Linked DNA regions of Homo sapiens. The main gene of each other region encodes a partner of the protein of the gene in region 2 in a complex. Each region holds a gene or a part of one and is shown on either strand. Other genes may lie near its edges. A codon is read from its position in the direction of its gene.

The links. Proteins that work in one complex are often made in the same cells at the same time.
Region 1: the proteins of GNAI1 (region 2) and HCRTR2 are in contact, whole or in part, in a cryo-EM structure (PDB 7SQO), measured with the Homo sapiens proteins. Residues at the interface, in NP_002060.4 of Homo sapiens: Ala31, Arg32, Leu194, Phe336, Thr340, Asp341, Ile343, Ile344, Asn347, Leu348, Lys349, Asp350, Cys351, Gly352, Leu353, Phe354; in NP_001371201.1 of Homo sapiens: Thr89, Arg152 (codon at 736), Ala155 (codon at 745), Ile156 (codon at 748), Pro159 (codon at 757), Leu160 (codon at 760), Met161 (codon at 763), Phe162 (codon at 766), Lys249, Gln254, Lys301, Thr302, Met305, Leu306, Ser368, Lys370.

Annotation. Positions count from the first base shown.
Region 1 is NC_000006.12:55,254,452-55,258,108, forward strand, and holds part of HCRTR2 (orexin receptor type 2), read left to right. Parts: intron 1-684; coding exon 685-928; intron 929-3,657. UniProt on the Homo sapiens protein: Nonselective, high-affinity receptor for both orexin-A and orexin-B neuropeptides. Triggers an increase in cytoplasmic Ca(2+) levels in response to orexin-A binding.
Region 2 is NC_000007.14:80,141,288-80,144,944, forward strand, and holds part of GNAI1 (guanine nucleotide-binding protein G(i) subunit alpha-1), read left to right. Parts: intron 1-3,657. UniProt on the Homo sapiens protein: Guanine nucleotide-binding proteins (G proteins) function as transducers downstream of G protein-coupled receptors (GPCRs) in numerous signaling cascades.

The DNA of each region.
Region 1 (3,657 bases), on a different chromosome or scaffold from region 2:
CAAATTTTGACTGGGTGAACTTACCTAGTTTTTGGAATCACATTGACTAGGCTAGCAGTGAGCAAACTGTCATAAGGAGATTCGCATACAAAATTCTCTTTTAATATGACTCGTAACTTTCCTTGGGTGCTACATGTTGAAAATGCACTGATGTACAAATAGCCCTTATTATTTGAAAATATGAAATAAGCTACCCATAATTTAAAAATGTTAATTAAATATAATTTCAATCAAATTTCTATGTGGTAATTTAGAAGAAAGACATATTATTCTTTATAATTGAGGCTTTTCCAGTTTGGACTAAACATATGTGTTTTTTTTTTTCTATATGAGGGTATGATTTCTTCCAATCAATGGAAAAATTACAGGACAAAATAATTACAGTAATTATTTAAAGAATGCCATATTATAAATTAAGACATTTGGAGTAAAAAAAGATTGCAAAGTTTTCATCATACCTTTTCATGTTTAACAATAAATTTACATTTAAAAGTATATTTCTAATATTTCATTTTTGTGATATAATTTCTTTTTAAATAGAAAGCACTTGCATGGATTGTTTATTTTTGGCAGCTTTGAATTTGCTTATATGTTGTGACTACCTTTCTCATATAGTAAATATATTAAGAGTAATTCTTTTAACAGCTGGTGCTTCTCTATTACTATGATCTTTCTTTTCTCTAGACCGTGTCGGTGTCTGTGTCTGTCCTCACACTGAGCTGTATCGCCTTGGATCGGTGGTATGCAATCTGTCACCCTTTGATGTTTAAGAGCACAGCAAAGCGGGCCCGTAACAGCATTGTCATCATCTGGATTGTCTCCTGCATTATAATGATTCCTCAGGCCATCGTCATGGAGTGCAGCACCGTGTTCCCAGGCTTAGCCAATAAAACCACCCTCTTTACGGTGTGTGATGAGCGCTGGGGTGGTAAGTACCTTATGGCCCATCAACTGACATTTATATTACAGCAGCAAATTGAAAATTGGATTAGCATAGCCATTGTAAAGCTGGGCTTATATATTTTATTGACATTTGTGAATACAGTTTTGCAAGAGCATGAAAACCAACTTGAATTTCAAAACAATTTCACAGAATAACTCTACCTATCTGAATCCTTTGGAAATGTTATCTATTATTTTCTCATTTTCATATCTTTTGGATAGGAAATGAAAGGAGATTATTCTACAATTCAGATTTGATTATTTTAGTTTTTCTTAAACTCTTTAAACAAAAAGCAATATGGAATACAAATCCGATTATGTATTCTGGAATGATCCACGATTTATAAGATGGTTCAACACTGTGTTGTCTAGTGTCAGGGTCCCTAATGGGCTTCAAATACAACTGAATTTTTTCATTTTAAGACCATGTCCTGGATCACATGGTCCTGGGAACATGGCCAGAGTCAGCATGTGGTTCTCTAAGTCAAATAATCCAAATTTGTTTTCTCTATTCATAATACATTATTGCTACTCGCATAATTATTATCCAGTTTAAGAATTATATTAATTATGAATCAATCTGGTTTCCCATCTGACAAGTATGATGTGAAATTTAAGCAATCAGGTTTGAAGGCTTTATGTTTCTTTGGTTAGAAATTCTTAGAGTCAGTCTGAGGTTTTTGTGTAACAGTGAGAATACTGCTATCAACACCTGGTGCTAGCACAAATCTGGGCACAGGAAAGAATGACAGAAAATAAAATAACCCTGCATTTCAGCATAGCATGCACTGATTCCAATATATCATATGAAATATATATTTAAAAAAAAACCAATCTGACCTCTTCTAGGTAAGTATACTAAAATGGCTGATATTTAGAGAATTCATATGTTAACATTGTTTTTTATTAGAAAGATGTATCAAAACAAGCAGTGCACACCAGGGACTGATTAAGGATAATATTCTTAAATATTGTAATCTTTGAATTTCTGTTATTTCCTACCTTGGTGTTTGTACTAGAACACCGAAAGGAAAAAAAGCCAATCACTGATATATTAGGCATATACTACAGGATATATCTACAGCAAGATAATATTTAAGAGAGGCTGGGATTATTTCATATATTGTTGCAAGACCTATAATAACTAAAATTTTATAATTTGCTTTATCTATTACCCCAAATATCAAATATCTGTCTTTTATTGGGATTTACTTTTCCTTTTTAACATTCCAACTTTTTTTTGCTGTATTTTTCTCTGTATCATTTTCAGTTTTTTCCAATTTTCCAAATTAATAGTGCAGACAAAAAAAAAATCAATGGAAATTTCCAAAATGGTAGGAATATTTATGAAGTGTCTTATGTCCCATTCATTTAATGCTCAAACACCACCTTGAGAACTTAGTATATGTCAGGCATTGTGCCCACCTGGAGAGAAACAGACTCTGCTTACGGGAGCACACTCTATATAATAAGGCTCAAAGGCCAATAAACAAATTTTTATAGGGTAATCAGTATTTTAATATATTTATATACAAAATGCTGAGAACACAAATGAGAGAACAAACTCAGTTCTGGCCATTTGAACAAAAGTTTACAGAGGAACTGCTAACATTCCAGCAGAACATTAAAGATAAGCAAAAATTCTCCAGACTGAGAAGAGGGAAAAGGATGTCCAGAAAGCAAGAAAATCCACATCATGGATACTACATTACAAAGCAGAAAGAGTGAATCAGCACTTGTAGTTTCTGGAACATAGGGGCAGATAGTGTAAATAATTGAATTTTGAAACAAGATGGGTTGGGGACTGACTGTGACATGTCTCTTATACGATCCTTTTACACTGGTTTATATTTAGAAAGCCTAAAAAGGTCTTTCTCAGAATCCTGTATTAAACTCGAGACTAAATTTAACCCTAGAAAGATTATATTATTTTTTCAAGATTATGAAGCAAATAGGTACATTTAAATCTAAAGCTTCCAACTTGTAAGTTGGGATTCCTTAAGTTTTATAGGGATTGCTATTAGATAAAATATAAAAATATTTTTCAATATGTGTCAGCAGTATTTTCTCTAATATTCCGGCAATTAGTTTCACTTATATGTTTATGGGTTGCTTTTATAAGCTTTTCTTTTTTTAATGTTTCCCTGAATAATCAAGTAACAGTAACCTCCATTAACAAAAAGATTGCAAAGTCATGGATTCCTGTTCAGTTATTATGATTATGTAAATAGACGTATGATTTTTAAATTACCTCTGAGTGGTAAATATAAATACATAAAGCTCATTTCTACTCTGATATTTTATTACATAACTCTAGCATGGACATTTTCATTAAAAAAAGGAAACAATTGTTGAATATGTAAAAACCTAAACTTAGCCTTCAGAAGTCATTTAAGAAAACTATTTGAAGGTGATTTTATAATAGCCTATAATTAAATGCTTGTAAAGACTAAAATTAAGTATTATTGGACTGAATTGATTAGCTACAAAATCCAACTTAGTAAAAGCTATACAGTCATTTAAATATTAAATGAAATTGCTAAGAATATTTTTAAGAAAAAATAATTCAAGGCAGATTTTTATCTTTCTTATTAGATATTTATTATGATGATTTCTACATAGCATGTAAAATCATTGTTCATGTAAACTATTTATAAGTCCATGTTCGACTTATAATGTTAAACCTTTGTATATGTGTGATTGTCACAACTTTTT
Region 2 (3,657 bases):
CCACAACTGACTGCAAAATCTCAACCAGGGCTCTTGATCTAACTCAGGAATAGGTGAGATTCTGGGTGTAATCCATACTGGGACAAAATTCCTGTCTGTTTGTGGACCTGTGAAACTAGCAAACAAGTTATCTGCTCCCAGAATATGGTGGGTCAGGCATAGGTTATCATTAAATGGAAAGAAAAAAGGAGTCTCTAGTTTTGAGCACTTTCAAAACTCCTTTAGGTTTCAAGGACTGGGGATAGTTCTCTGTGACTCTTTACTCCACCCTGTGGGTACTGAACTTCTCCACTCTTGGGAGTCATCCTTCTTTTCTAATGAAGGGTGTAGCACCTGTATGCTGCTGATTACTTTTATCAGCCTGTTTCTTGCCTCTGGAATTATGGTGGTCTGACAGCATTATTTCATTTCATATTCTTTTACTTCACCTTTTTCCTGTCCCGTTTTACTGTAACCAGCAAGAAAAAACAAAAACAAAGAACCGGCCACATCTTTAATACTTTGCTTGGAAATCTCTTCATCTTAATGTCCAGGTTCATAGCTTACAAGGTCTGCTTTCCACGTAACTGCTGGACTTAATTCAGCTAAGCTTTCTGCCTGTATATAGCAAGGATCCCCTTCCTCTAGTTTTTGATAACATGTTTCACCTTTCTTCCCATCCAAGTCCTCATCAGCAGCAAATTTAAGCTCCATGCGTCTAGCAATAGTATGTTCATGATAATTCACATATTTTCTAAGGTGATAATGTGTCATCTACCATGCTTCTCACTTCGTTCTGAGCCCACACTGGGAGAGACATTAACATCGTATTTCTATTAACAGTATGTCAAGACCACCTAGACTTTTTCTATTATGCTTCTCAAAATTCTTTTAGCCTCTGCCCATTGCCCATTTCTGCATTTTTAGGTGTTTGTTATAGCAGCACCCCATTTCCCATTATCTTCATCAGTATCTTATATATCACTTTTGAAAGTGCAAAATAATTGTAATTTTACATTCTCCAGTCCCTCATAATTTATGTGACTATCATGGTAACACTAAAAGCACCAGTTTCTTACATGTCATATTGAACCCATGGTGTTACTCAAGTCGTAATGTGAAAGAATAAAGCTTTTCTTTGCCTCTTCTTTATTGACATTTTTCCTGATCATCCAGTCTAAATTAGTCTTCCTTCGTCTCCCTTCCTACTAATACCATATTGAAATCATCTTGTACTTTTATTTTTTATTGTCTGTTGCCTTTCTCTATGGCATTGGCCCCATCAGAGCATGAATCTTGTCAGACTTATCATCTGATGGGATGGCACATAGTAGCTGTTTCATAATTGTTGGTTAAATTAATGGATAAATTGTTGAACATTAATTTTGACTAGTTTTCTTTTAAAGGGAAAAATTGGTACATATTCTTTGTGCCTTGGGTATTTTGAGTGAATTTTAGCCCAATATATATCTTGCTGGTTTAGAGTAATGAAAACCTACTACATTATTCCTAACACATTTCTAAAAAGTAAACTAATTTTGGGGACCATATTCTTGTTGCATGATCAAAATCATGATTCTTGGTAAATAAGTGGTAGAGTGAAATGTGATTTTCATATTTGAATATTCTGGGAACTTTGTTTTTAACAGTATTGCTGCCTTGCTGTTTCACATGTTATTTTGCTGCTTTCTTAAAATGCATACACTATTGCAATGTGGCATTTAATATATACTCACAACTATATATTTCACACAGGATGATGTGACTCTGGTAAACCTCAGCTTTCAGGAGCCAGCAGGCTGCTCAGAGGCTCACCAGCAGACTGTTCTTTATGTCTTGCTTGTTCCTATGTGGTGAGGATGATCACTAGTAGCATTTGTAAGATGTGTTCCATGCTTTTCCTGTCAAATTACGCATTAGCCTTACCAGATCCTTAAGAGAATTTACAGTCTACTTGGGGAAATACAATATATACATAAAGATAAGTCCTCATAATGTCAAATGGGGAAGAAAAAATAAAATAGATACTAGGTAGGGGAGGTGAGTGTCAATATTGGGACTTCATTGTTGATCTTGGGGGGTGGAGGTGGAGGTAGCTTGCCTCTCAGATATTACTTTGGTTATAAATCTGTCAGTTGTTTTCATGTATTTCTGAACCTACTATTTAACCCTTACTGGGTGTAAGCTTTGTGTTGTATGGAAACTTATAATGTAGAAGAGACTTTGCTATCTATGAATTTAGTTTTCTAACATTTTCCATGTCTAAGGAATTTTTTTCCCCTCCAAGGTTTATTTAGCTCTGTAGAAAGGCTTTCCAGAGAGGAAAGGTGAGTTGACTTAGAACTCTGGTGGTAAAAGTTTTCCCATGAGACCTTGGGCAAGTTACCAAATTTTATAAGCTTCAGTTTTTTCTTCTATAAATGCTGGATAATAAATATATCTACTTCATAGGGCTAGTGACAAAGTAAGCTAATGCATCTGAAGTACTTAGAATACTACATGGTACATACATTCTTAATAATTATAGGCTATTATTATAAATACTTCAGAGACTCTGTGGAATCAGCCCTCCCTTGCAGTTTCATCCATTTGTGGTCATAGACATTAAATTCTTTTTATTGGCTTTTCTTAGCAAGGATGTGTGTGTGTGTGTGTGCGCGCGTGTGTGTATCTATATGTGTGCATATATGTGTGTGTGTGTATATATATAGTGAAGACTTCAAGAAGTATAAATTCAGTTTTAAACATTAGTTTCTAATCCCACCGTAACTTCCTTGAGGGACTTGGATTTCTCTTTAACAGCCTCCTTACTGGGGCTAGACCAGGTAAATATCTGTGCTGTGTTAAGAATTCTATAGAGAATGCACTTTACATAATCAGAAGATTTTACAAATGTTATAGCAGTAATTTTCTCTTCATTTTATTATCCATTTTTAGAATTAGTGCAGTGGCTTTTTGCAAACTTTTTTTTTTTTTTGGAAAATAAAGCTGTTAGTGTAAATTATGAAACGTTAAGTTTATTCAAAAGATGGTGCCATTTCTCAGAGGAGTTTGACAACTTTCCACAAAATATAAAATCCTTTCTAAAACTTCCTGCACTGTTGACTCAAAGAGATTCCTGATAGAACTCCAGGATTATAACGGATTTACTTTTAGGAGAAGAATGTCTTTAAAAGTGGTGGTAACCTTAATAGAGAAACAGTGAATTGTTGAATCTGTGATAGTATTTGTGCCTTTTAATAAATTGTAAAATGAGTTCCTTAAGACTTACATCTTCAGTTGTATGAAACTCCTCCTGTTACCCTTGCCTCACTAAAGTACAATCCAGAATTTTTTCTAGTAACTGATCTATATTATTCATTTTTCTTGTTTGGGCACATACATCTTATTTGACAGCCGTTGCTGAAGGCTTACTAATTTTGTTCTTCATGGTATTTAAGAGGGATGGAACTTGTAAGTAAACTTACAGTTATAATCAATATAATGTAGTAGGAGTTAAACTGCCTTCTTATATGGTTCCGAAGTTAATCTAATTCCAAGAATTACATTTATTTCGGTATAGCTTGAAATTGATCCATGTATACTAGCTCACTTAAGTTTTCACAAACTGAGCACATTCAATCAGCAATCAGATCAAGAAATGTATGCAAGGTATATTTTGTTACTGTAAAAAGTAAT